3 linked regions of the Homo sapiens genome follow. The protein of the gene in region 1 purifies or fractionates together with the protein of each later gene. This does not show direct contact. Each region holds a gene or a part of one and is shown in the gene's direction. Other genes may lie near its edges. The genes, in order: EHBP1L1, ANO4 and PPP4R1.

Region 1 (8,185 bases):
GATCATTTTCCTTGGGTGTGGGGGCGGGGCGGGGCGCGGCGGGGAGACGGGGTAGCAAAAAGAACCGTGAAGAAACCACGCCTGCCCCCTTCAGCCTTTTCCCCCCTCCGCCGCATTTTTCCATCTCCCCTTGAGTGAGTGGATGTCCCGTTGCCTTTTCTCAGCTTTGCGCGACGTGGTCCCACAACCGTTGCCTTTTTAAGAGAGGCCCGGCCCATCCAGAGGGGGTGGGGCAGAGGCGGAGTCTGAGGAGCTGGGGAAGGAACAAAGCGAGGCCTGCGGGCGGCGGCTGGGCTCCGGCGGGGCCGCGGGGTGCGGGGCCTGCGGGCGGCGGCCCGGGCGGAGCGTTGGAGGGAAGGAGGTGGCATCGCCGTCCGCGCCGGCCCCGGCCATGAACGGGCTGCCCTCGGCAGAGGCGCCGGGCGGGGCGGGCTGCGCTTTGGCCGGGCTCCCACCGCTGCCGCGCGGCCTCAGCGGCCTCCTTAATGCGAGCGGGGGCTCGTGGCGGGAGCTGGAGCGCGTCTACAGCCAGCGCAGCCGCATCCACGACGAGCTGAGCCGCGCCGCCCGCGCCCCGGACGGGCCCCGCCACGCCGCCGGCGCCGCCAACGCGGGACCCGCAGCCGGCCCGCGTCGTCCTGTCAACCTCGACTCAGCGCTGGCCGCGCTGCGCAAGGAGATGGTGAGTGGGTGGGCGCCGGGCCAGCTGGGCGGGGGGCTGACGCGGAGGAACGCAGGGGACTGGGACAGGCGGCCTGGGTCTCAGAGGACTTGCAGGCACCAGTTGGGTTGCAAGGGTTATGGTAACAATAATTAGTGATAGTTACCAATTATGGCAGTAGTTACCATATATTTTCAAATGTTTTGCTGACGTTACTTCATTTCATCCGGCTAAATGGATAACCCCATTTTTTGGGTGAGGGTCATGACTAAAGTTGCATAGCTTGCAGGTGGTGCCTGATGTCCACAAAAACTTCGTTTAGGAAGGTGCGGGGAAGATGGGCTGGGGCCCACTATTCCAGGGGGCGGGGCTGGGCTGGGGTGGCCTGGACCCCAACTCCAGCCCACCCTCAGTTGTCTGCAGGTGGGGCTGCGGCAGTTGGACATGTCCTTGTTGTGCCAGCTGTGGGGCCTGTACGAGTCAATCCAGGACTACAAACACCTGTGCCAAGACCTGAGCTTCTGCCAGGACCTGTCATCCTCCCTCCATTCGGACAGCTCCTACCCACCGGATGCGGGCCTGTCTGACGACGAGGAGCCTCCCGATGCCAGCCTGCCTCCTGACCCGCCACCCCTTACTGTGCCCCAGACGCACAATGCCCGTGACCAGTGGCTGCAGGATGCCTTCCACATCAGCCTCTGAAGGGCTGGGGGGCAGGGGGCATGCACCCATGCAAAAGGCTCAGAAACTCCCCCTCCGGCAAGCCCTCAGACTTCGGAGCCTGCGCCTTCCCCCCTACCGCCTCACCTCACAGGAGGGCCAGGCATGTATTCCTCAGAGGCGAAACTGCCAAACTCTTTCTCCTGTCTTGGGTTGGCTGGCACTGGGGCGGGCATCTAGGGTACAGCCTCTGCTCATGGCACTGGGCCTCCAGTTCTTCCACATGTGTGCACCCCCAGCTTGGCCAACCCTCAGCCTTGCGGTGGGGCCCGAAGCATCTTCCCTTCCGCTTGGCGTCTCTGGGATTGGGATGAGTGCCTGGCTCCCATCTCCTCCTCACCTTTTGTTGCTATCGGCAGCTGCTGGCTCAGGGGCATCCCACCTCCGGGCTCTGGGTTCCTCTGCCCTGGAAGGGCTCCAGGACCCGTCCCAATAACCACCCACGGCCAGGAGGGCCAAGGCCCCGTGCTGGATATTTAAATTTAGGGGCCGGTCTCCAGGGCGCGTAGATAAATAAATACACTCAGCGTCGTTGTGCTCTGCCTGGCTGGCTCTGGGGCGGGAAGACCGCGGTGTTTGTGGCAGGTGCGGCCCCGCGCTCTGCCAGCAGGTGGCGCCCGAGACCCCCTCCCCCCCCGCCCCGCGCCGAGTGAAGGCCCTGCCGTCCCGCCGGGGCGGGGCTGGGGGCGCTGCCTGCTGGCCGAGCCTGGCTCAGCCGCCGGGTGACTGCGGTCGAGTCACTTCCCCTCTCTCGCCCGCGACCTCCGAGTCCCCCGCTCCCTCCTCCCAGTTCGCTTCGGGCTTTCCCTGCCTGCCGGGAAGGAAGGAGAAGGAGCCGCCCACCTTGAGGAGGGAAACTTTCCACCCCGCGCGGGGCGGGGTTGAGGCGGCGCAGGAAATGGGTGGCCGGAGTCGCCGGAGCAAGGGGCCCCGGCGGGGGCGGGGGAGGCGCCTCCGGGAACGGCCTGGGACCTCACGCCCCGCGGGTGGGAGGGAGGGGTGGCAGAGGCCGAGGGGAGTGAAGTCGCGGCACCTCGGGCCTTCCCGGAGGCCAAGCATGAGACTCCGCGGCGGTGAAGTTTGATTGGGGTTCCAGGGACCCGTATTCCCCGCTCAGTCTGTGAAGACCGCCGGCTCTCCCCACAGCACTAGCGGTCTTTACAGTTATCTGTGGAAGGTTTCTTAGGAAACCGGGGACCCACACCGCTGGGACTGAGAACCAAACCCAGTTGTCAAGCCCACCGGAAGAAGCCAGCACGTTCGGAGACAGTGGGTACTCAGCCCCCTACACGCGCACACGACACCTCACAACCTCCTGAAAAGAGGTGAAGCCGCACACCGAGGTGTGCGGACGAACAGCACATCCCCGCGCCCTGCTGCAGCCATTTGCCTCCTGGAGATGCAGCCCAGATGGCAGTCCTGGCACTCAGACATCCCGTTAAACCAAGTAGCAGTCACGCACCGGGCTCCTGTCCATTTACACACCTTGCAGAGCAGCGGGAAGGAACAAACTGACCTATTGCCCCAGGGCAGCTGACACCTGCAGAGGCTCATTACCATGCAGGGCGGGTGGGTAGGCGATAAGGGCTCTAATCTAGGGGTTCACAGCTGCTAACGCTCCAGGCAGGCTTTCCTGGGGAGGGAGAGTAAACATACACAAAAATGACACGTTTTCCCCATCCATTATAGCGCATCCCATTTAATAAGGAGGCATGGCAAAATCAGCCAGGCTTTCTGCTAAATGCCTTCTGAGGTTCATCCTCTCAGGGATTCCCTAAAAGGCGGAACTACAATTATCCCCATTTAATAGACGTTGAAACTGAGGCTCAGAGTGTTAGCGCTTTGCCCAAAGTCACACTTGGTTGGAGGTCAGTTATGATTCTCCAGCTACTTGTCGGGGTTTGGGATTATCTTCCCCCTTGACAGCAGAGTCAGGTTCTGAGGTTGGGCCACCGAGGTTACTGACGCCTTCCTGCTCTGGTTAAGACGTGGGTGGCTGCACCTTGGAGTTGAGAGCTGGTCCTCGTCCACATTCACAGTATGACTCTGAGCAAGTCCCTTCCCCTTTCTGGGTCTCAGTTTTCCCAGCCGTTGAAAGGGGGCCAGTAGTACGTACCTCCCAGGGCTGCGGGCAGGAAGGAAGGCGGCCCGGGCAGCGCTCTCTAGGGTGGCACCAAGTTGCTGGTTGCCCTCTCTCCACGCAGCCTCTGCGCGCACCGAGCGGGCACTGCGGTCGGGCGACACCCCTTCCACGCCCCCCTCCCCCGCCCCCGCTCCCGCTCCCGGGTCGCGGCGCGAGGCCCCGGAAGCCGGGTCGCCCCGCCCCCGCGCTCCTGCCCCGGCCCCCGCCCCGCGCCGGAGCCCCGCCCGCCTTCCGACGGGGGTGCGGCTCCAGGAAACGGCGCGCTCCCAGCTCCGCGCTCGCCACCCGACGCGCCCCAGGCGACCCCGCAGACTCAGCCAGACCACCCTGCGGGCCCCAGCGGCGGCAGCGGAGAGCGCGGTCCCGGGTCGGAGCCTGGGACACCTCCGCACGGACGGGGCGGGCGGCGCGGACAGGCCATGGGGACCCGGGCCGGGCCAGCGGTGGCGGGCCAGCGGGAGCCCCGGGCCTGAGAAGTGGGCGGCGGGGTGGCGGGGGCCATGACCTCGGTGTGGAAGCGCCTGCAGCGCGTGGGCAAGCGGGCGGCCAAGTTCCAGTTCGTGGCCTGTTACCACGAGCTAGTGTTGGAGTGCACCAAGAAATGGTGAGTGGGAGGGAGGCGGGGGGGCTCCCCCGAACTTGCTGGGACCTCATCCGGCCCTTTGAGCCTGAGAGGACTCTGCCCCCCCAGCCCAATGACCAAATGGGCCCCCACCCCAGCTTGGGCCCTGGTTCCGTTCCCAGGCTCGGAGATTCAGAAGTGCCCTTGCAATTTGTGGGACCCCTGGAGTTGGGGGCGTGGGCAGCCTTCCCTGCGCGGGGGTCAGGACTTTCAGGCCTGAGGTTCTGCCTGTGTCCACTCCTTCCTCAGCTGCGGTCAGGGCTGGGGGAGGGAGGCCGCATGTCTTGTGCCAGAAAGGTGGTTCAGGGTGGCATTGGAAAAGGGATCAAGTTTTGAGGTCTGCAGGTGGCTAGGGCTGGGGCAGGAGCCTCCCTGACCTTACTTAGTCCAGCTAAGAACAGAGATGTTGCCCCCTCCTCCCCTGCCATCTTGTTGAGCCAGAAGAACCCCTCCAACTCCCGCCTCTTCAGCCAGAGTGCTGGGAGGCTGGAAACATCTCCACAATGTCCTTAAAAGGGGAAACTGAGTGCTGGGAGGATTGAGGAGGGAGGCGGGGAGCAGCTTAAAGGGGCCTGAGGACCTAGGAGGTTGTGGGTCCGGGAGGAGAGGGTTGCGGAGGGCAAGGTGGCAGGGTGAGGGGTGATTCACCAGAGGGTGCAGGCCCCAGCCTGGACTACCAACAGGTTCAGGGGCATCTCGTTCACATGCCGCCACCCATAGCTGCCCAGGCCCCTGCGTCACACCCTAAATATACGTGCTTGCTGGTGTCAGCTTCCCTTGGCTGGATTAGGGCACAGCTGTGGGGGCCTCACCCGCCAGGCGGGGCTAAATTTAGGCTCCCCAGGGGAAGGGCTGGGGCAGGAAGGGACCATGGGGTCCAGGGGGAGGGGAGTAAGCAGGAGGCTGGGGTCCCTTGGGCAGCTGCCATATCCTTGGCCTTGCCCACACTGGGCCTGCTAGAGGGCCATTCACATCTTTCAGCAGAGCCTGGGAGAGCTTGGGGGCTGGCACTTGAACTCTGGCCTCTGGCTCCTGCTCCAGCATCCTGCGGGAGGCCAGGGAAACACTGGGCACAGCAGGCTGAGGGTGCCGGCAGTGTCAACGCAGCTGAGTCACAGGCGGCTGTGGGTAGGGCCTCCTGGGCTGCTTAGCCTGGAGCCCAGGCCGGGAAGCTGCCCCTGCCCAGGTTGCAGCTTCCCAGGAGGGCGTGCCCAGCCTGAGTCAGGCTGCCCAGCCAAGCCCTGCCCTCCCTAGGCACCCCCTGTCCGCTTCCCCTTTCTGGGAAGGCCCCTTAGTTACCCTTGCTCTGCCATCGCTGGCAATTTGGGCTTGGGGAAGGGAACTTGGCTCTGGGTTGGAGGGCTCTAGGCTCAACCGTGTAAACTTGTTTGGCTCCAAACCTCTGTGGGCCTCAGCATCCTCAGGGTTAACAGAGAGGCACTTATCCTGGCTTGGCCTCAGACGAACAGTGAGCTGGGCAAACCCCAGCATCACGAGAGGGTGCAGGCATGGGGCTGGGTACAGGCAAGGCCAGTTCGCGTGCTGCCCTGGGCCGGATCGTCCCCTCAAGCATCACCCCTCCTGGGCAGCAGTTGAACATCTAACCCCAAGGGGCCCTCTGCCCCCAGGCCCAGCCATGAGTCCACTCAGTGCCTGGGAATGGGCCCTGCGCAGCCATCTCTGTCCTCTGGCTTTGCCTCTGCCTCTCCTCCATGTCTGACCTGGCATATGCTGTTCAGCTTAGATGTCACCCCCTGGAAGTCTTTTCTGATTGCCCTCCAGGCTCCACTGTCATCATCTTGCCGAAAGCTGATCCTCCTTGGGACCCCTGCGCCCAGCAAAGGGCTGGACATGGTGGGCGAGGGATGGCGGTGTTGGTTAATGACAGGCTGACCCTCTGCTGCTTCTCCGGCCTCACCCCCAACTCTCTGCCCCTCTCTCTGATGTCACCCTCCAGCCGCAGACCCTTGGACTTGCCATTCCCTCTTTCTCCAGATCCTCACACAGCCCATCCCCCTGCCACTCATCTCTGCCCAGACACCCAACCTCAAGGAGACCCCCAGGGGTTCCCTCACATCACCCTGGAGTTCGCTTGTTAATTTATTTTCCTTCTTGACTGGTAGTCTGCCCCCACCTCCATTGTCCTCACCGGAAAGGTCTTGTCTCTCTTTTGCCCTCCTCTGTCCCCAAAACTGGGCTGGGTTTATGGTGGGCGCTCCACAAACATCTTTGTGCGAAGGGACTTCTTTTATCCCTCGTCTTTGTCTCTCCCTGTGTTGGAGTCTGCGTGTGTGCACGATGCTCACATGTGCATCTGTGTCTGGCATCTCTTGCCAGGTCCTTGTGTTTCTGTGTGTCTTGGTCTCTGTATGTGCCTGTCCCTTTCTCACTTGCTGTCTTTCCTCATAGTCCCTGCCTGCCCACACTGTCTGGGCCTTTGCCCTTCTGCTCTGGCCCCACCCTACCTTAGCAGCTCCACCCTGCACCCTGTGGCCCCAGATAAGGGGCTGCCCAGGCCCTCTTCTGGAGGAGGGGGAGGTGGGCAGAAGGAAGACCCTGAGGGAGCTGGGGGAGGAGGAAGAGGAGATGGGGAGGCAGGTGAGCCTGACCAAGCAGCCTGCTCCCTTTCTCCCTCCCCTTCCCCCTCCCCCAGGCAGCCAGATAAGCTGGTGGTGGTATGGACCCGTCGGAACCGACGCATCTGCTCCAAGGTGGGGAAGGATGGCAACTGGGGATCCAGGTTAGGGATGGGGGCCGGTGGGAGGCTGATGGGGGCTGATGGGGGAGTGGAGTGAGGTTCAAGCACAGATCAGAATCCACAGAGGGGAGGGGAAGATGGTGTCAAGGTTGGTGATAGGGGGTGCAGGTGGGAGGGAAGAGTTAAGATGGGGGGAGGACTCAGATTGTCCCTTGTAGGCCCACAGCTGGCAGCCGGGCATCCAGAACCCATACCGGGGCACCGTGGTGTGGATGGTACCTGAGAATGTGGACATCTCTGTGACCCTCTACAGGGTGAGTCTCTAGCCCTCCAGCATGGATGGCAATTGCAACACAGGCAGTTGCAACAATTGCAACACAGGTCTCCTGGTAGGTTGTTCATCCAGATAGAAGAGGATGCGGGGGGTGAGGCCAAGAATTAGGGGGGCCTGCTCAGCATCACTGGCCCAGGAGGTCTCCTTGGAGGAGGCAGCATTTACCCAACACATGCAGCATGAGAGGCAGCTGGGACCAGAACTTGGGGTGCATCCCAGGAGGAGGTAGCAACCACCGCGTGCACCTGTAATCCCAGCTACTTGGGAGGCTGAGGCACGAGAATTGCTTGAACCTGGGAGGCAGAGGTTGCAGTGAGCCGAGATCGCACCCCTGCACTCCAGCCTCGACGACAGAGGAAGACTCCGTCTCAAAAAAAAAAAAAAAGCCACCACTACCAAGCACCTCCTGAGCCAGACAAGCTCTGCTCCCTTTGCTGCTGCCCCAACAGTCCTGTACTCACCAGCACCCTTCTTCCCAGGACCCCCACGTGGACCAGTATGAGGCCAAAGAGTGGACATTTATTATTGAAAATGTGAGTGTCTGGAGTGGGCTCAGGTCTGGAATCTTGGGGACCCTGGGACAGCACTGATGCCCCTTCTCCTGGTCTCTCCCCTGGCCCACAGGAGTCTAAGGGGCAGCGGAAGGTGCTGGCCACGGCCGAGGTGGACCTGGCCCGCCATGCAGGGCCCGTGCCTGTCCAAGTCCCAGTGAGGCTGCGGCTGAAGCCAAAGTCAGTGAAGGTGGTGCAGGCTGAGCTGAGCCTCACTCTTTCCGGGGTGCTGCTGCGGGAGGGCCGTGCCACGTGAGTGCCTACCTGCCCTCCTTGATCCTGGCCTGTGACCTCTGACTCCACCCTCACCTTTAACCTCTGCCTCCCAGGGACGATGACATGCAGAGTCTCGCAAGCCTCATGAGTGTGAAGCCTAGTGATGTGGGCAACTTGGATGACTTTGCTGAGAGTGATGAAGATGAGGCTCATGGCCCAGGAGCCCCGGAGGCCCGGGCT
Region 2 (10,190 bases), on another chromosome or scaffold:
TATTTGCAAACCCGCCTACTAAGCACTTTGGGGAAATTATTAGCAGCCATTGACCTCTGATAGGGAAACATTAGCAGTTCAACCTATCCTCTCTCCATTTCAGGTCTCCTGCTGAATGCTGAAGGATAATTAGGATTTTAGAATTTAGTGAGGGACCATACTTTAATGTGTATGTCAGTCCCATACTTTTCTAGAATATTCTTTCCCTCTATAGTATTATTCTAGTAAGTAAGGACTATTCCTCTTGGCCTTAAAATGTAATTCAAGGCTGGGTGTGGTGGTTCATGCCTGTAATCCTAGCACTTTGGGAGGCTGAGGCAGGCGGATTGCCTGAGCTCAGGAGTTCGAGACTAGCCTGGGCAACACGGTGAAACCCTGTCTCTACTACAATACAGAAAATTAGCCGGGTGTGGTGGCATGCAGCTGTGGTCCCATTGGGTATGGTGGCATGCACCTGTGGTCCCAGTTACTTGGGAGGCTGAGGCAGGAGAATTGCTTAAACCCGGGAGGCAGAGGTTGCAGTGAGCCGAGATCGCACCACTGCACTCCAGGCTGGATGGCAGAGCGAGACTCTGTCTCCAAAAAACAACAACAACAACAAAAATGGTAATTATAGGGTCAGAGTTGAGAAACAAAAATCAACAAATACAAATCATTTTCTCTTTAATTTATAAGCATTAGGAATTCATTTTTTGTTGCATAAAAGATTTACATTTAATCTCTGAGGTAAAAGAAGTTTCGGCTTCAACTTGGACTTGTGTCATTCCCACCTCATCCAAATTCATGTAACATGGTGGGAAGGGTCCTCTATTGTCTCATACATTTAGTCTAAAAGCATTCTTGGGGGACCCCCTCCTATGTTCAAATCAGTGTCTCCATATAAAAGGAAGCTCTGAGGCTGTTCCAGTTGTTCCTACATTGTCTTTGCCACTTGGGTGAGCGTTTTCAGCCTCCCTGAGCCCCAGGTGCCCCAGTGTACATAATACTTACACTATGGGTGCTGCAAAGGCCTGGAAAGATAGGTGGAGCCATTGGAGTCAACTCTGGCACATGGTGGGGTTTAGTTATTTTAGACACTGGCTTTCAGAAGTTAGATGGAAGAGACACAGACTTTTCCATATGCAGATTATAACTTAGTTTTCAAAACCATTAATTGGCAGAAAGTTATTTAAAAGTCCCAATTCTCATACCTCCATTAAAATATTCTGATGTCAAAAATGGAATTATGTGGCCGCCTACCCTCTCGGTGGTCTGGAAAATAGTCATATTTTCACTTTTTCTCCTTAGGCTAGTTACAGAACACAGAACCCACTTCCCATGAACTGTGTCTACCCTGGTGTTGAAAGACTGAGCTTGAAGAATACTTGTCTTTTAGCCTTTAGAAAGCTCTGTCAACAAGCTTCTGTGAAACAAAGTTCCTGAAAAAGCTATCTTATTTCTTTTTAAATAAGTGGCAGATACAGGTACATAATTCAGTTTATCTTGTAGTCAGGAAAAAGGCATTAAATCGTGCTGTTGTAGAATTTTAGCCACATTCTTTTGGCCATTCAAATGGCCATCGATCCAACAAATACTGATTGAGAACCTATTATATGTTAAGTACTACACCAGTTCAACACCAGTGAACAAGACACAATCGCTGATATCATCCCAAGTTTAATTGACTTGTATAAACAATCTGTACATTACAAAAATTAATGTTGTTGCTATCTGAAATGGGAGGCATTTTCTGTCATTTTTTTAGTAGAGAGGAATAAAGAGACCGAACTTTAAAAATTAATGGCGTTTGAGTTAATAACTGGAATACCTATTTTTATTGATCAATTGTCATATAGATGTGCAGTTACTTAATCCACTAGATAATTTGTATTTCTGCAGTATTTTCCATTTCATGCATCATTATAATGCTGTGTATTCAAGGTATGAACCCGTTTCATCAACAGTATTAATCTCAATTCATTTAGGAGCTTTAAATAATATTCCCTTATTAAGTATATTCTTGATATGCTGCCCATGCTTTTACAGTGTCAGAAGCCGTTAATGCAGATAAAAACAAACATTCAGTTAAAGAACCTTCTCATATATTAATTCGATTTCAGAAATTATTTGTGCATTTATATTTCCTGAATGGCTTCGGTTATGACAAACATCTAACTAGGCTAATTCAGAGCTTTGAGGCTAAAGTCCAGCCTCATGGATTGGTTTAATCTGAAGAACATTAAAATAGTAGAACATTTTCTGTCTTGGCAAGAATCATAGTGTTGAAATTTCAAGAAGAAGATTTAAATTTGTCCATGAGACTGTAAACTTCTTGAAGGCAAGGACTCATCTCTGTAGCCCTGATGCATAATTGATGTTCTTCAAATGTTTGCTGATTTGAGTTGAACTGAGGAGAATAACAAAACAGCATTTGAGAATCAAAGTCTCCCAGGTTTTCCTTATATAATTTACAAGGACTTCCCTGGCAAACTATCCTTTCTTCTTCGTTTAAAAAATTTCACTTTATTATGTTCATCTTTGATGTGGAACATTTTTTATGGCCTTCTGCTGTGACTCATTTTGGTGCTGAGTTATCTGCTTCCTTGGAGCTCAGCCCTTCCTTTTAAGCTGTGGTATTCAGGCTCCCCAAAGTCAGCTTGCCTACGGGTAGAGATCACAGCAAAATGTGCAAATGGTATTCCAACTTCTAGGTAAAAACAGACAACTAAAATTAAAAACTCTACATCATGTAAGTCACCTGGAAAAAAAAAACAGAAAACAAAACCCGAGGGCATTTGTATATTCCTGTTAACTCTTGACTGACTAAAGGGAGTTATCTTTTCTGCAGTGATAAAAAGGTGGCCCAAGACAATCTCCCCATCTTACAAAAAGTTCTGAAGTTTTACTGTGGAGTCCAATTAAACTGGCATTTAACTTCAGAAACTACATCCCTATATAATGTAATCATCACAACCAAATACAAATTAATTAATATATATGGACAAAGTTTATAAGTTCAATATTAGAATAGGGGAAAAGGGAAGTAGGAAAAGTTTAGAGTCCTCCACGCATCCTTCATTTATCACCAAGAGATTTGCTCCTTTGCTCCTTCTGTTAGTGTAAGTCAGAATTTCTCAATTTTCAGTGTGTTTATGAATTGTTATTATTGTTTATCCCAAACACATATTTTGTCTTATAGGTGATTTAAGAGCTCTAAAAGGGACATGTTAACTATCTTCAGAAGCTCACCTCTAACAATATTTCTATACCTATATTATACAAGAAAACTAATGAAGATTGACAGTCAAATTCCTGGAGAGACCTTTGACCCTTCTCTGTCTTAAATTTTTCACTTCTGAAATAGAAAGCCGGGTCACTGGTCATCTTATCCTGCACTTTGGGCATAAAGAAGCTTAGGTCCAAAGCGCCATTACTGTACTCATGATGACCCCTTGAAGGCACATCAGTAGGGCTGTCTGGACTGTGACATGCCATCAGACATCATTTAGGGGACTTCAAGTCTGGCTTCTTGCAGAGATGCTGTGGGATGCCTCAAAAACTTCCTGCATGGCTAGTGTAACTATGGGGCTTTAGATCTTTGTTAAATACAAGCAAACATTAACAGCAGCAGTGGAGAGGATAAGTTGCCAATCCTCCCAAATTTCTTTTCCAGGCAGGGGGTTGTCCTGCCGCTCTCAGAACTGGCTGTCATCTGCTGCTCTCTTGTCACACTGACACGGCCCCCTGGCTGGGCTGATTGGTCGCTGGCAATAACTGATATGGAATACTGATGTTCTCTCCGGCAGTTCCTTCCACTCTAAAGAGACTCCTTTTCATCCCTCTTCTCGCCTTTCCTAGCCCAGCCTAGTGCCCACCCTCCCCCGACCATGCCTCCCCTGCACCTGGGGAGGGGGAGGACCAGTCCTGGGCGTGATGCTCTGAGACGGTGGTGAAATCCACCAGGCTGCTTTCACTCCGGCTCGCTCTCCGGAGAGTCCTGTTCCAGACTTCTCAGGGTTTTTACAGCACAAACAACTGCATACGGCCCGAGGGGAGGCTGAAAAGGACTTGTGTGTGGTGGTTTTATTGCCTGTCATCACTTTGCTGGCCTCCTCCCGACTGGAGCCTGGAGGTTCACAGTGGATTTCTTTCTGCCGAAGACACCAAGGCACTGAGGAAGGATCCCTTCTCCTTCTGTTGACTCTTTCTATTTTTATGGTAAGTGCTTACGTTGAATGAGCTGCTCTGTTGCTGCAGTGAACTGAACCGTTCGTTCCCCCTCTTCCCAGCTAAGCTTAGTGACCTTCCTTCTGCATTTCCTCTGTTTTCATGGATCTTGTCTGGGATGATCCAGCTTCAAAAATGCCAGGGGTCATTTGCCTGGAGTGTTTGTCTTTTTATCTTTTTTCCATAAACGTGAGCTCTTCTGCTGTGATACGAATATAAGTGCTCTGTCTTTGTCCTTGAAGCAGCAGCCGGGGAAATGTGTTCACGATGGTAAACTGCAGCAGCGTGCAGGGAATCTGTGGAGGATGACTGACAAATTTGGGCAGGATGAATCCTCAGTGTGCCAGGGGCACTCACTCAGGATCAGAAGGGCCGGGGGTGACCTGCCCACATAGCAAACTCTTCCATCTTTGTGGATAAAGATGAGCACACACGTGTGAGTTATGTTGAGTCTGCTGTGGGCAGCTGTGTTTTCTGCACCTGCCCGTGTGGGTCTGGGATGACCCTATATCTTGTGGGGTTTACAACTTGGGCAGGAACATTCTCAGCAGGAGGAATCCTGAGCTGGCAGACGGAGTAGACTGCATGACCTCATTGCTTCTTTCCCTTCTGAGTCTCAGGGTACCCAGTTCTGCAAACCATATTTTACAGGCTCTTCAGAGAGTGGTAGGGCAGTGATGACAGGAACATTTTTGAGTTGACAACATAGTTTTGTCCTCCTGCTAGGAGATAAAATACTTTGAGGTTATTAGAATGGTTAGACTTTTCTAGGAGAACATAAGCAGGTTTCTGACGAAGACTATGGATGTGGCAGATTGTTTATTCCAGGGACATTACTCTTACAATAGTGCTCTAATTTTTCACCTGGTCTCCTGAGGTTTGCTGCAAAGAGCATCACAACTTCAAGTCTATTACTGGCAGCTTCTTGACGCCCAAAGGAAACCAAGAACATTTTATTAGTTTCACTCCTGTGCGTTGCAGGAGTCTCTCTTAACAGGGATTTTTTTTTTTTTTTTTTGGTAGCAGGTGTGTCGAACTATTTTGGTCAAAGCATCATTCCAAAGAATAGCTTCGCAGTTGTAATTCTATTTAGTTATTTTCAAGTCTTGGACCGGAGGTGGGTTATCTTATTTGTGTAGGTTTTTCCATTCTGGTCCATTTCACTCTAGAGAGGGTTCTTGCCAAATGTAATTCAGTCTCTGATTCATAAGGTACTGAACTAATACAATGTGATTTTTTGTGATAAGTGAGGGGAGAGAATGTGGGGTGAAATTTCCAGTCTCTCCTCCTGCTCTTTGGGAGTTTGGAATGTAAAGTTCCCTAACTGCTTGCTCATTTTCACTACTTTTATGTCCCCTGTTCATGTGGATTTTTCTTGAAATAGTGGTGATGACATCAGACATATGCCTTTACCTTCTTCTCTGGGTCCAAAGTAGATGCGTTTGTTGTTGTTCTGTTTTTGTTTGTTTTTTATTTCAGTGAAGGGTTCCTTGCATTTGTAAAAGCATACGTTTAAATAAAAAACAAGAATTTGTAGATGTTTACATGTTAGCCCTGTTCAAGAGTAAAACCAGCACAGAGGTTAACAGCAAAAAAAAAAAAAATTCAAAACAATTTTTAAAATATTATCAGCATTGCTTGGCTTAGCTGTTCTAATATCCACTCTTCCCTACACTCGATTGTGGTTCGCGGCAATACTGTATTGTAATTTGACTGTCAGACTGCTCTGCTTCCTCTTTAATTCTTTAATGTTTAGCTGTTTACTTTCATCCTTAATGGTGTGTTCTTACTTTGCTTAATCTTTTTTTCTCTTTTTCTAATTGAAAGGATGTTATATAGTGCCTGGTAACTCAACTGAGGATACTCATTAAGATGGAAAGTGTTAGAATCAGCTTGGGTGTCATGGAAATAGACTCAGTATTTCTCACTGCAGGCAATTTCAGAATCATTTAGAACATATTTCATTTTAATTAGTAGCAACTTTAGCCTTGAGAAAAAACATTATTTAGGTTTCCTTTATTTTGCTAAACAGATTGTGTACCTATGCAATCAGAATTGTATATATATGTGCAATTGTTTATATATATGTGTGTGTATATATATATATATACACACATATACAAGCGTGTACACAAATGTACTGTTGTTTGTACTGTGTCAATTGTATATACTTAAAAAATTGTTGTAGCATGCCCATTTGGAGAACAGAAGGAAAATTCCTCAGATATTGCTTTAACTGGCTTTTTTTTTTTTTTGGTAAGGATTTCCCCACTTCCTAGACCCCACTTCCAGATAATGCCTTTAAGAATTTCTTTGAATTGGGAGAGTGCATTTTTCAGCATTTCCTTGTCTCACAGCATGGTGTCATGTTAATTCCTTTGCAGGGTCTCTGAAAGCAGCATAGAAAACTACTGCAGGAAAAATTGATAAAAGCTGTGCTGAGCGGAGCCTGTAGCCTCTTGGTGTGATGAAGTCACTGCAACATTTTGTGTGTATTTATTTTGCTGCTATGCCTTGCAACTGATTTTGCTTGCAGACTTAGCAAATTGAAGTTATTTAAAATGGGTCTGGAAACACCTAGATTGGTGTAGATGCAGTTGATGCAGTTATTCTTTTTTTTTTTACACTCTTTAATTACAACTATCATCAAAACTGTGCTTTCACTGTTTCTTTTGGTGGTGGTTTAATTTGAAACTTGCAGCTTAAATTATAAACCAAGTCTCCCTTTTAAAGTCCTCTTGCCTTCTGCTTTCTCTCTTCTTCACTTTTGCCATTTTATATATGTGAACATGCCTACATGTACACAGACAAACTCAGACAGTGAAAAATGTACAACAATTAATGAAGAGATGATTACAGCTTTTCTTTTAGTAACCAAACTCCAAATGTTGAAACCATAATCATGTAACTGAGGGAAGAAATTGTTTCTGTTAGTATAAATATAACCTCATACTTCTGCAGGCATTCTTATCATTGAAACTGTTTTCCATAGTTGATTACCAGGACCAGAAATAGAATTGATTTTGCATTTTAATTAATGACATTCTGGATCTGTCTAGGTTGGACTGCCCTCAAACCTTGATATGTTTACTGTCTAAAAGGTCTTTGTGTTAAGAGGGGGAGTTTATGGGTGTTATAAAGTAAAATCATTTGATTATGTGATACAGCTTTTCTTTGGTAACTGAATGAACCATATCATTAGAATGTTGGCTGAATTTTTATGTTGCTTTTCCCAATATTATTTAGCCAATATAATCCCTTTTACCATCTCTTTGAGCCCCTTTTACAGAGTACAAAGAGTTATGTGCGACTCCCACATGAGGCTTCTTAGAGGGAAGACTGTTCTTCAGCAGAGATTCAGAACTACTTCTAGCACCAGCTCTGGTAATCTACTTGGAAAGGAACTTGCAATTCAATTGGCAACTCAGGCAGATTGTATAAAATAGGAGAAATGCTTCATGAGCTGTGTTGAATACTGTATTTTTGATCTGTGCCTCCCTACTAAATTCATTTAGGACTGTCTTTACTAGATCAGTTTTGCAGGGAAAAAAACATGTCCTCAGTAGCATAATAATCTATCCAGACTGTCATAAATGTTTATATTGCAAGTTATACTTCTTAGGAGTTGGAGGGAGATGGCAGAATTTTGGAGGAGAACCAAATCACAGCCCCAAAATAATGCAAGACGAAAGGGGAACATTCTTCCTATGTTTAGCATTTAATTCTCCAGTCAGGCTGTTTGCTCTTAAGTCTGAAGAGCGAAGAAATGTAAAAACACATAATGACAGGTTTTGTGGGCTTTTTCTCTAATAGAAATCTTTAACCCTTAATTAGGCATCTGCTGACTGACCTTTTGGTGTGTGTGAGCCAGCAGCCATTCTTATAGAAAGCAGACATAATGTAATACAGTAGGAATTCAGTTACTTACATCTTTCCTGTTGGTCCCCCACAGGGGACCTCCTCTGAGTGTCAGAGAGGGAGTGAGTGTCTGGAGACCATCAGAGACCACAGCCAGTCACAGAGAGATATCTTCAAGCCCCTTGGATTCCAGTTCAGCCCCCACCACTAACTGGCTGTGTGACTCAAATTCTGTATCTGCTACATGAAGCTTGGACCAGATAATCCCAGAGGACTGTAACCCAGCCATTAAAAATTGTGAAGTATTAATTCACTTCTATTTGCTACTAGATGAACGATTATTTCTAAGACAATTGACCCATATTAGACATTCCTGGAGGGAGTAGGCTGTAACTTCCTTTGACCCTGCAAAGCCCCCAGAACTGTGACAGTGACGTGAGCATCAGTGTTACTCAGAAAAGTGTGATCATGGTACCCTTCATGAACAGGGCGAATATGTATATGATGACTATCTGCTTATCCTGGCACATTTTGGAAAGTCTCTTGTGATTATCAAAAAGGACCTTGGCCAGGGGCGGTGGCCCATGCCTGTAAATCCCAGCACTTTGGTAGGCCGAGGTGGGCAGATCATGAGGTCAAGAGATCGAGACCATCCTGGCCAACATGGTGAAACTCCATCTTACGAAAAATACAAAAATTAGCTGGGCATGGTGGGGCGCGCCTGTAATCCCAGCTACTCAGGAGGCTGAGGTAAGAGAATCACTTGAACCCAGGAGGCGGAGGTTGCAGTGAGCCGAGATTGCGCCATTGCACTCCAGCCTGGCAACAGAGCAAGACTCCGTCTCAAAAAAAACCAAAAGGAACCTTAAAGAGCAATTTACCTAATCCTCTCATTCCACAGAAGTTAAGGAAGTGATATGACTTCCCCAAGGCTGGAGACTCACATAGCACCTGGGCCGGATGACTTTAGTGTAAGGTGCATTCATTTACTCAGAACCCTGCTCCATTCCCAGTGTGGGGCCCCTTCCATGATACACAGCTGACACTGTGCCATTCATTGTTCACAAATCTGCTTTGTGGCATCTGTCTCACTGGTGTCCATTATTTCTGGGTTCATTTCATGCAGATTACGTGGCTGTACCAGTCAGAGTGAGTCATATCAAGCAAATGTTTATGGTAATTTGTTTATGCTTGTGTGGAAATGCATTTTTATGTTGAAATTCTGCTTTTCCTATAAACATTTAAAGAATTTTACAAAAACTATGCATAGTTTTTCCCCTTTGCTTAAACTATTTAAATGATCATTGATTTCTATGTAGAGGGGGTGATGTTTGTGAATTAATTCCTTCACCATTCACTCATTTACCTGTTACTTACTGAGCACCTATTGTGTCCACCCTACTGCCAAGCAGCAGAGATCTAGTGGTGAGACAGCCAGACACATCCACTCCTCTTGAGGAGTTCAGAGTCTACTTATACTTCATGGAGTTGGTTGTCTTTTCATTGTCAGCCAGTGTTCTATTTACTGATTCACAATTTCTCAAAGAATCTGGTTGAAAAATAGTTTGCTTGGGCAGATTTTTTTCCCTGTGGTTATTCCATTGAGAAATTCTTTTCGTAGAAGGGCACCTTTGCTGTCGTGGTGACATATATCTTCCAATTTTCGAAGATATTATTTTTAGCTTCTGATTTTGTGACCTGACTGAACAGAAGAGACAAATTAGCTAAACTTATTTGCACTATTGTTGTGATTCATGAAATGACAATTCGTGTCTTTGATAAAACTTACCTGTTTCCTAGAATCTTAAACTGACAGCCTGGATAGCACAGTGTCCATGGAACAAATCACAGATTAAATACCACACTCCTTTGCCTTGCATATCAGGCCCATAACAGTGTACAGCCCTTGCTTCCTTGTTCTATGTCTGGTTCCGAAGTTCCATGGAATGCTCTAGGAGTACCAAAACCATTTGCAATACTCAGAAATTTACAGTGCTCTCACTTGCCTCAGTGCCTTTGCACATGCTATTTCCTCTTCTCTCTTCAGACTAAACTTTCAAAGCAAATTTGATGTCATCTCCCTTGGAAGTGTTTTGACACTTGCCATCCTTATTGACTTCTTTTGC
Region 3 (10,346 bases), on another chromosome or scaffold:
TACAATGTATAGAAATGTATAGGAGGCTTTAGGTAAGAGACTGGCAATTAGTTTTTTTAAATTGTTCCTTTTTTTTTTTGAGACAGACTCTCACTCTGTGTCCCGGACTGGAGTGCAGTGGCATGATCTTGGCTCACTGCAACCTCTGCCTCCCCGGTTCAAGTGATTCTCCTGCCTCAGCCTCCCTAGTAGCTGGGATTACAGGCATGTGCCACCATGCCCAGCTAATTTTTTGTATTTTTAGTAGAGACAGGGTTTCGTCATGTTAGCCAGGCTGGTCTCGAACTCCCAACGCCAGGTGATCTGCCCACCTCAGCCACCCAAAGTGCTGGGATTACAGGCGTGAGCCACCACACATGGCCTAAAAATTGTTCTTCTTATTTGAAAATGAGTTTATGAGGGACATTTTGTCAATCTGGCTTCAAAAAAGATGAATGAAATGAATGGTAAAAATTTGTTTAACGTGCTCGTTTCAGCAGCACATGCACTAAAATTAGACTGATACAGAGAAGATTAGCATGGCCCCTGTGCAAAGATGACACGCAAATTTCATTTTAAAAAAGCAAATAAATATTTGTTTAAAAATCATTTTTAATCATGTAAGTATTTCTCCATTTTTCAGACTGTTTCTCTTTTCATCATTTAAAACAATAAATAATAGGGCTGTCCTTATATACTTTCAGTTTCAGGAATGATAATTCTGAAGAAAAAAGTGAATGGTTCAATCACCGATACAAAAATTAACAAACATGATAGTGGCAAGCAACATCAGGTGGGTTTTGTTTATTAGCGATGTTTTCGCCATTTTTTTTTTATGTTTGTTTGTGGTTGAAAAGCCAGACACATTAATTTCCAAGGCTCATTGGCTGCTAAGAAAAATTGTCACTGTGGCCAGGCACAGTGGCTCATGCCTATAACCCCAGCACTTTGGGAGGCCAAGGCGGGCAGATCACCTGAGCCCAGGAGTTTGAGATCAGCCTGGGCAACATGGCAAAACCCCGTCTCTACGAAAAAATACCAAAATTAGCTGGGTGTGGTGGCGCCCACCTGTAGTCCCAACTACTCAGGGGGCTAAGGTGGGAGGACTGCCAGAGCCTAGGAGGTGGAGGTTGCAGTGAGCTGAGACTGCACCACTGCACTCCAGCCTGGGTGACACAGCAAGAGCCTGTCTCAAAAACAAACAAACAAAAACCCTTTCCTTATCATTTGGAAGAGGACTTATTCTTAAAAATGCAGGCCTTAGTACTTACATAGTTGGATGATGCTTTTAGGAAAATGACTTGGGACACTCCCCCTATATTTTACACATTTCAGTGGCAGAACAGGATAACAATTCAGACTTCCTGTGTGTCTGACCACGGACAACACACAGCTCTGCCATCCACGAGCTGCATTGTAAGTGAAGCTGGGTTAAAGGTATGTAGAATAATGATTGCTATTATTTGTTTAAATATTATTTCTTAGAAGAAGGGGACAGAGTGCAGTTTGTAAACACTGGTTTAAAAACTCCTTTCTTTTAGAAAGGAGAGAAAGTGAAATGTAAAAAACACATATTTGTGCTGAACCATGAATGATACCGTCACTGAAATATCTAAAAACCATATTGCTTAAAGGCACTTCTTGCAATGTGTAATTCAGCTAAGATGATAATCAAATGCATAGCTCTTGAATACAGAAAAATGATACAGATCCTCCTCCTTTGCTGCCCTTCCCACAGAATACTGAGATAAAACTTACTGAGGCCTAGCTACCAAAGGCAGAATTAGTTGTTCCATATCCTAGGCTAGCATTTGGTACATAGTCCCTATTTTATCATGATTACTGAGAACTGTTAAGTCTAACTCAACTGTGTAGATCAAGACAGTTTTGTCTTAGTGCATCCAGCGGCTGAAGCACAGTTGGCACGCTGTAGATTTTGTGTTGTTGCGGTGAGACCACCAGTTAGAATAAAGAGCTGATTTGGGCCGGGTTTGGTGGCTCACACCTGTAATCCTGGTGCTTTGGGAGACCAAGGCCAGAGGATTGCTTGAGGCCAGGAGTTCAAGACCCACCTGGGCAACACAGTAGAACCACGTCCCTAAAAAATTTTAAAAATAAATTGGCCAGGTGGAGTGGCCTGTGCCTTTAGTTCCAGTTACTTGGGAGGCTGAGATGGGAGGATCTCTTGAGGCCAGGAGTTCGAGGTTACAGTGAGTCATGATTGTGCCACTGCACTCCAGCCTGGGCTACGTAAGGCAAGACTGGCTCTAAAAAAAATTTGCTTTTTAATGAAAAAAAAAAAAAGAGCTGATTTGGCTCTTTCTTCCCCCATTTACCCAGAATTGCTAAAGTGGTAGATACTGACAAGGTATCTTAGCAGGGCAGAAGTCTCATGGTTTGAGTCAGTTGGGACCAATTGCTGTTGATGTGAATTTCTAACTCCTTTGTCATTCTGAGTGTGTCAGCTGAATTCACATAAGGGCATTCACCAAGGGAGGAAGAGAAAGGCCTTTAGTTTTAATTATTTTATAGTTGAGAAAATTAGACACATACTCGGGGTTACGGGGTCTATTCTGATTTTTATTACTCCTAGAAATTTCATACAGATTATAATCTGTCTATCTTGTTAGTAATATCTGACTGAATTTTTTGGAATAGCTATGTGTAGAACCCATTTTATTACACAGATTTAGGAATCTCAGAGGATCTGATTCCTTAGTCTCTTAAATCTTCAGTGGCATTAAATGCCAACACATTGTCCTTGGTCAAGACTACAACGTAGAAAGGAACAAGCTAATTAACTACTTAGAATTCCCTCTCCTAAGAGACCACATCGCCAAAGTGGCACCATGACACAGCTTGGTGTTTTGTTGGTCACTTTAGGAGAACACCATTTTGGAGGCCTTGGGTGGAGCTGGAGATAGAGCCATGGAGGTAGAATCGTGTCGGAAAACCTGGGTTTAGCCCCATTTTGTACTTGGGCGTTTGAGCTAATCGCTTAAGTCACGTAAAACAACAAGACTAATAAAGTCTGGGATACAGACTTTAACACCTCAAGTGCTGCCAAAAGTATTTAGAAGACAAAGCGAATCATAGGCACCCTTCACCGAGCACCTCCTAGACATCAAGAACCATGCTAGGTTCCCTACATTCTTCATTTAATGCCAATAACCCCACGAGGCAGTTATCACCTTCATTCTACAAATGGGCCCCACTCCTACCAATTAACTGGCTGAATCAGGATCTGACCCCGGGCCTGCCAACGCTCCCGCTGGTGGATTGCCCGCCTTGTCAGCTCGAGTTGGCAGGACGTGGGAGTAAAAACCCGGCGCCCCAGCCTTCACCGTGCTGCACGAGGAAGCTGGCTAGGCAGGCATGACTTTGTCAGTCAACCATCCCGCAGCCGGGCCCTGGGCTTTGTTAGCAGCCACTTGGCGAGGGCCCCGGGCGGGTGGGGAGGCGGCGCTTCCTCCAAGAGGAGGTGGGACCCCGGCCCCGACGACCTCGGAGCCGCCCCCGGCCCCGGATCGCCGACGACGTACGTGCAGGCCTGGGGATGGGGCGCTGGCTGCGAGCGGCGCGCCCGCCGAGATGGCTGCGGCTGGCAGGGCGGTGGGCGAGGCCGGTGACCCAATAAAGCGGCCGGGCCGCGGGAGGCCCCGCCCGGCCGGGTTCCGGCACTCGCCGCAGGGTCCCGGCCGGCGGCAGGTTGCGCGCCCCCGTCCGCAGCGCTCGGCGTGAGGGCGGCTCGGGAGGAGGGTGTGAGCGCGCGTCGCCGGGCCGGGACCCGGCAAGCAGCGGGAAAGGCGGGAGGCGGGAGCGCCGGTCGCCCGGGAGCCGCGCGGAGGGGCAGGCGGGGCGGGGCGGGGCGCGGCCGGGGGCCCGGGCGGCCGGGAGCCGCGCCGCCCGCGGCAGGCCCGGGCCCTCGGCCCGCCCCGCGCGCGCGCCCCCGCCAGCCCGGCCCTCCTCCTCCCCGCCGCCCCTCCCGCGCGCGTCCACCGGCTCCCCGGCTCGCGCCGCTCCATGTAGCCCCGGCTCCCCGGGCGGCCGCGGAGGAGGGGGCGACCACAAGATGGCGGGTACGTGGCCCCCTGTTCTCCGGGCGGCGGCGGCTCCTCGAGCCCACCCGCCCTCCGCCGCAGCCCTGAGTGGCTGCCGGGCCGGGGCCGGCGTGGGGTCCCGGCGCGGGAAGGCGCCCCCGGGGCGGGGGGGAGGCGGGCGGGGGGGGGGCGTCGCGCCGGGCCCCGGGGCGCTGACCGGGCCTTTCTTCTCTCCCCTCGGCGCAGACCTCTCGCTGCTTCAGGAGGACCTGCAGGAGGACGCAGACGGATGTGAGTGGCCCGGCCTCGCGGTGGCCTGGCAGTCCGCGGGGAGCGGCCGGGGAGGGCGGGCGGCGGCGAGGCCTGGGCCGGGCCCTGGCTGGCTGAGGGGACGGTGGGCGAGGGCGGCCCCAGGCGGGCTGGGGTGGCGATCGGGGGGGAAAATCTCGCGTCCGTGAGGAAACGGCGCGCCCAGGTTCCGCTGGGGGAGGGAGACGCCCGGAGTAACGCCCAAGTTCGCTTTCCGCCCTTCGCTCTCTTCTCCCGGCGCCCCCGAATCGCCTGCGGGCTCAGCAGTGGCGCGGCTGTTTTGGAAGGAGAAGCGGTGGGGCAGGATTTGAAGTGGGGTTTGGGTGTGTTTCTGCCCCTGGTGTCCCCTTCCCCCGTCACTCTAGGAAGGAAGAGGCTCGCGCGGGAGGTGTGTTTCCTTAGAGTCGCTCTTCCAGGAGCGCCCGGGGGTCAGCCTGGGCCCCGGCTAGCCGTCTGGGCTCCCCGACCCGGTTTTGGATTGTTTGAGGATGACATACCTGTCATTTTACTTTGGCTGGTAGCAGTTTTCAGATGCTCCCGATTTGATTAGTGGATTACGAGAAGGTTAGAAGGTGTGGCCTCCGCAGGAATTACTAGGTTTGGAGAGCATATTTCTTTAATGCGGATGTTCAGAAATCACCCAGCCCTCCTTCAGTGTTAACAGTGCAGCTTTCCTTTGAGGTACTGAAGTTTTTAAAGAGTTGACGCTTTTATTTTTAAAAAGACAAAGTTTCTGACATTTCCTGATGGCGACGGAATTGATATTTAGAAAGGAATTTTTCGTCTTATATGTACTTTTCTAAGCCTCAGAAAATAATTTGGGTCACGATAGAAAAGACAAAAGAGTTAAGCAGGTTTGTATTGAAAGAAGTGACAAATTGCAGTTAACTTAAAATAGTTTCTATTCTTGCTAATCTTCCAAAATAGCGACCCATCAAAAAATCAATAGGTTTTGAGATGCATTTTAAAAATGCAGAGTGTGCAAAATATATAAGCGAAGATCATGGGATACATAAGGGACCAAGAAATTGTTCTGAGTTGAGATGATAACCATAGTAGGATTGTGGTCTGTTTAGTGGAAAGCCTACCGGATGCTGAGATTGACTGTCTAGTACCTGTATAAGTAATTTCAGAGATGGCTGCAGTTTGAAATTACTCTTTTAAATACTCTGTAGTTAATCCTTAGCATTGTCTAATGTGGTTCCCTTACTCAGAGTAAACTTAATTTTTAGATTCCTGGTTGTTTTGAGTAAAGTAAGGGGGATTTACTATTTAGATGGATTATCTGAAACGAGTAATTTATCTTTAAAGTAAATGAACCACATCCAAACTTTTGCTAAGTCTGTGTTTTTAGTGAGGTGGCTCAAAACAGCTCTCTTAAAGGGAGCAGTACTCATGTAGTGAAGGGCAGCTTTAACATTTTATTTAATGTTTACCTTAAGCCACTTATCTGCCTAATAGTAAGTTTGAGATATTATTTAAGGCATCTGTTGATTTCAGATCTCTTGCCAGGTTAGGATTGGAGAAATGGCCCTGATTATGTTACCTCGAGGAGGGCTTTTTATATTTATGTTCGACTTCGTAAATAGAAGATTCATTTATTCAGCAAGTATTTATGACTGGAGCAAAAACTTCTCACTCCTGAAGGATGAAATGCAGTCTCAGTTTCTTCCTTAGCCCCCAAGAAGCACAGTGTAGAGGGGAAGGCATACCTGTGAAAAATTCAACCATGAGTTTCAACACTCTGCCAGGTACTGGGGATGGAGCTTTGAGAAAGATGGGCACAACCCATGCCCTCTAGTGGTTTACAAGCAGTTTTGAATCTAGGTGTACAGTACAGTATTACAGTTACCACTGGAGCCAGGCTGCTCTGTTTGTCTTAGCAGTGTCTTTTTGGGCAGACTTGGGCAACTCACTTAACCTCCCTATGCCTCAGTTTTGTCATTTGTAAGTAGGCATAAGAAATATTACCTACTTCATAGAGTTGTTCAAGGCTGTACATGAGTTAGTGCCTCTGAAGCACTTGGAACAATTCCTGGTAAACAGCGATGATTATGATTATGTTTGCTGTTATGAGAAAAGAGCAAGGGAAGCTTAAAAGAAGAGCAGAGAAGGAAACACTGATGTTGAACCTTACAGAATGAAGGTACTTAAAGATGCTGCCAATGCTCGCAACTAAATTTTTTTTTTTTTTGAGATGGAGTTTCACTCTTGTTGCCCAGGCTGGAGTGCAAAATGGCGCGATCTCGGCTCACCGCAACCTCTGCCTCCCGGGTTCAAGTGATTCTCCTGCCTCAGCCTCCCAAGTAACTGGGATTACAGGCGTGTGCCACCACGCCTGGCTAATTTTGTACTTTTAGTAGAGACGGGGTTTCTCCATGTTGATCAGGCTGGTCTCGAACTCCCGACCTCAGGTGATCCACCTGCCTTGGCCTCCCAAAGTGCTGGGATTACAGGCGTGAGCCACTGCGCCCGGCTGCAACTAACTTTTTAAAGATTCTGTTTCCTGTGCATTTTAATTTAGGATAAAACAGACATTGAAGGCACAATAGTTATTTGCATATTCATAATTTGGTTGAAGGCTTTGTTAGAGTAATTGCTTATTTTTCTCAGTTACTAAAGTTTTTACAGGTGATACCTTTACCCAGAATATTCAGGAACAAAGGACTTTTGGACATATGGCCAGTTGAAGGACCACTTCCCATCTCTTGTGAAGGGAGAAAGAATGAGGGGGAACACTGGGCCATGGTGCCTCCTTAGAGAGCAAGATGGTTGGTAAAGGACTGAGACAGCTGTCACATCCTGGAGAAGCTGGAGAAGGTAGAGGACCCAAAGGTAGAGGAACGGAGCTTGGGCTGCCCTTATAACACGGTTGTTATCTCGTGAGCCTGAGTTTCTCTGTCTATGGTAAAACTCCAGAGTATGGAGCCCAACCTCCAGAGTAGTTGTAAACAAGTCCTACTACTTCAGCCAAGCTAGGTGTAAGTTGGCCCTTGGGATGGGAAGAAATTGTTTTCTGGTCAAGCTCTAGAATCTTGGTTGACCTTCCTAAATGCAGAACCTGGACTATGAGGGAAGAGACAGTAAGTTCTGTTGTGCAGATGATCTAGGAAAGGACCTAGCTGGAGTCTAGGACTTGAAAGAGGGGCATTGCCAGACATTGCTAAGAGTCTCAGGTCTTTCGATTTGATTTGTTTTAATCCCGTCTCTGTACAGAGGCACAGAGTCGGGGAAAAGGTTGGTCAAAGACTGACTTGACTGATAACCTTTGGAGGAAAAAAAATCCTAATGAGGGAAAAATGGATGGTATTTGTGTGTGTGTGTGTGTGTGTGTGTGTGTACACATAATTTCATTGAAGGAGTTTCATTAGAACTTAAACTTTTATCAAGTAACTTATAAAGGTAAGTAAATGAAATCATTATCAGGTACTCTTAAATTTAGGAGAATAGGCTGGGTGCAGTGGCTCATGCCTGTAATCCCAGCACTTTGGGAGGCCGAGGTGGGCGGATCACGAGGTCAGGAGATCGAGACCATCCTGGCCAACATGGTGAAATGTCTACTGAAATACAAAAAAAAATTAACTGGGCGTGGTGGCGTGCACCTGTAGTCGCAGCTGCTCAGGAGGCTGAGGCAGGGGAGTTGCTTGAACCCAGGAGGTAGAGGTTGCAGTGAGCCAAGATTGTGCTACTGCACTCCAGCCTGGCGACAGAGCAAGACTCCGTCTCAAAAAAAAAAAGTTTAGGAGAATAATGCAATAAAAACCATATGTATTTAAGTTTAAAAGTGAAACTTTCAGTACTGTATCATGAAATACTTTGAATTTCAAATTGAAAGCAAACCAGTGACTCCATTTGAACATAGGTTATCTCAGCAGATTTCAGAGTTGGGTAAACCCTTTTTAACTTTTTATATTTAATTATGTTCCTTAAATAATGGGAGACAATACAAAATTGTAGATGTTTAGAAAAAATTATTTCAGATTTCTGTTTTAGTTTCCAAAGATGCAATTTTGATTCACATTTAAGTTGGTAGATTCCTAAAATGAAATGAGACTAAGATACGGTTAAGATTTGATGAGCCAATGCTTGTAAAAATAATTTCATTGAAGGAGTTTCATTAGAACTTAAGCTTTTATCAAAGTAATATGTTGAAGAATGTTATTTTTAAAGAATGGCTATGTAACGCTTAGTTTACAGTGCCTTTCATACACAGGTTATTCTTCACAGCAGTCCTGTGATGTGTAGGCTGTGGTATTCTAATACTAATAAGTAAGTTGACTAATGCCCAAAGGGACTAAAGAAACAAAACTCCTAAGTTTAGACGGAATTTTAAGCTAGGCCTTCTGATTCTAAATATCATATTTTGAATATTTTCTTAAATGGCCCAGTTTAAAATATTGATCAACCCAAACTTGTACAGGCAATTTCTTTGAACTCGTTCTTAAAGTACCCTTGAAAATTAATCTGGGATGCTGCATGTGGTTTAGTTTACACCTGGAGAATGATAGAGAGGATGGAGCTTGGGTATAAGACAGCTTATTTAGTCGTTAACTTTTATCTCAGCTGTAACTAAGTATGACGTTGAAAAGTTTTTGAAGCTATGTTATTGAGTATGCCATACAACAGACTTTTTTCATATTTAAGTTTTGGAATCCTTTTACATTATGCTGTTTTTCGGGTTTAAGGGCGGTGTTGAAGTAGAGTGAAGGATGGGTCCAGAACTAACTGAGGGTAACCGCCTAGACCGCACTCTGTGCAGAATCTTCAGGCCTTCCTACCATGTTTCAAAACCAGTTCTGATAAGCTTAGAGTCCTTGCTTCCGGTGGGAGGTGAGGAGCAAAATATTGGGGCTGTATCTGGTAGTGGCCAGGGAATCATTCAGAAACCTTTGGAAGGTGCCCTTGAACGTGAATCATATTTAGGAGTATTGTTAAATAGGGATTTGGGAGGGTGAGTCGTGAGACCTGGTAGCCTGTTTTGACTGCTGCCAACAAGCCTGGATGGAGAGATCTTTATTTAGAGATAATATCATTGATATCTTAGAAAAGAGTGCTTTTAAAATGGTTTCAGTGGTACCCACATGTGTGTTGGATCAATTAATGATACCTCTGCTAACAACTTCCCACATAAAATTGAAAGAGAGAGAGAGAGAGACAGAGAGAAAAACCCCTTTGTAAATATGCTTGGGCCTGTAGCTACACGATCCACTGCCCTCCCCCCTCCAAAAAATAAAAAACCAAGACACCTAAATGCATACTTTTTGTTTGTTCCTGCCTGTGAAAGATAAATAGACCTCAGGAGGTAAAGTTCAGAAGTCTGCTGCCACATTTGTTTGATCTCTGGTTTATTATTTCTGGTCCTTTTCTCTCAGTCTCCTCAAAACAATGAATGTATGTTTATTAAACTATTGTTACCTTGCTCCTATGTTTGTATTACATCTTTTTTTTATATTTTGGAGTAAAAGAATTTGAAAGTTCCTAAATTTGAATTAGAGTTGTGTTGTTGTTTTTAAATTGGAGCTGAGAATAAACCTAACTTAGTGTTTTGGGCAGAAGTCTGGATGGCACACCTATGGAATTTTGGCTGAGGAGGTATTCCCTCTAATTTCTATAAGAGGGTCTGGAACTTGCTCTGCTTTTAGCACAGATCTTTGAGCTGGTGACATCATCAATGCTGCTTCCTCCACATTCATTTCTTAACTCTCCTAACTTTTAAGTCATCTTAGCTTCTTATCTCCCTAGACTAAGGAGCAAACTTAACTTACTTTCTGGCCTTATTGATATGAATGTGGTTGGTATTTGAGCATCTATCATGCAGTCATTCTGGAAGATACCTCAGTATAGTTTTGTGTAGGGGAAAGAACACTGGGCTTGGTAAGCCTTTAGACCTGAGTTAATATTCTGGCCCTGCCATTTATTCTCTTTATAATCTGAGCAAGTTAACTTTTTCTCAGCTTTCTACCTTTAAAATGTTGATGGATTTTTGGATCATCTGCAGTTTTTTTGCTGTTACAAATA

Evidence for each region.
Region 2: the proteins of EHBP1L1 (region 1) and ANO4 purify together in Homo sapiens (co-immunoprecipitation; one large-scale study listed by IntAct). This does not show direct contact.
Region 3: the proteins of EHBP1L1 (region 1) and PPP4R1 fractionate together in Homo sapiens (co-fractionation; one large-scale study listed by BioGRID). This does not show direct contact.

What each region holds. Positions count from the first base shown.
Region 1 is NC_000011.10:65,572,279-65,580,463, forward strand, and holds the start of EHBP1L1 (EH domain-binding protein 1-like protein 1), read left to right. Parts: upstream 1-3,774; 5' UTR 3,775-4,024; coding exon 4,025-4,128; intron 4,129-5,928; exon of another isoform or gene 5,929-6,000; intron 6,001-6,799; coding exon 6,800-6,857; coding exon of another isoform or gene 6,858-6,886; intron 6,887-7,062; coding exon 7,063-7,158; intron 7,159-7,657; coding exon 7,658-7,711; exon of another isoform or gene 7,712-7,802; coding exon 7,803-7,981; exon of another isoform or gene 7,982-8,058; coding exon 8,059-8,185. Other genes in the region: FAM89B (leucine repeat adapter protein 25), read left to right, coding at 392-682, 1,085-1,363. UniProt on the Homo sapiens protein: May act as Rab effector protein and play a role in vesicle trafficking.
Region 2 is NC_000012.12:100,790,831-100,801,020, forward strand, and holds the start of ANO4 (anoctamin-4), read left to right. Parts: upstream 1-3,945; 5' UTR 3,946-4,197; intron 4,198-10,190. UniProt on the Homo sapiens protein: Has calcium-dependent phospholipid scramblase activity; scrambles phosphatidylserine, phosphatidylcholine and galactosylceramide. Does not exhibit calcium-activated chloride channel (CaCC) activity.
Region 3 is NC_000018.10:9,608,190-9,618,535, reverse strand, and holds the start of PPP4R1 (serine/threonine-protein phosphatase 4 regulatory subunit 1), read left to right. Parts: upstream 1-3,976; 5' UTR 3,977-4,051; coding exon 4,052-4,058; intron 4,059-4,261; exon of another isoform or gene 4,262-4,265; coding exon 4,266-4,310; exon of another isoform or gene 4,311-6,079; intron 6,080-10,346. UniProt on the Homo sapiens protein: Regulatory subunit of serine/threonine-protein phosphatase 4. May play a role in regulation of cell division in renal glomeruli. The PPP4C-PPP4R1 PP4 complex may play a role in dephosphorylation and regulation of HDAC3.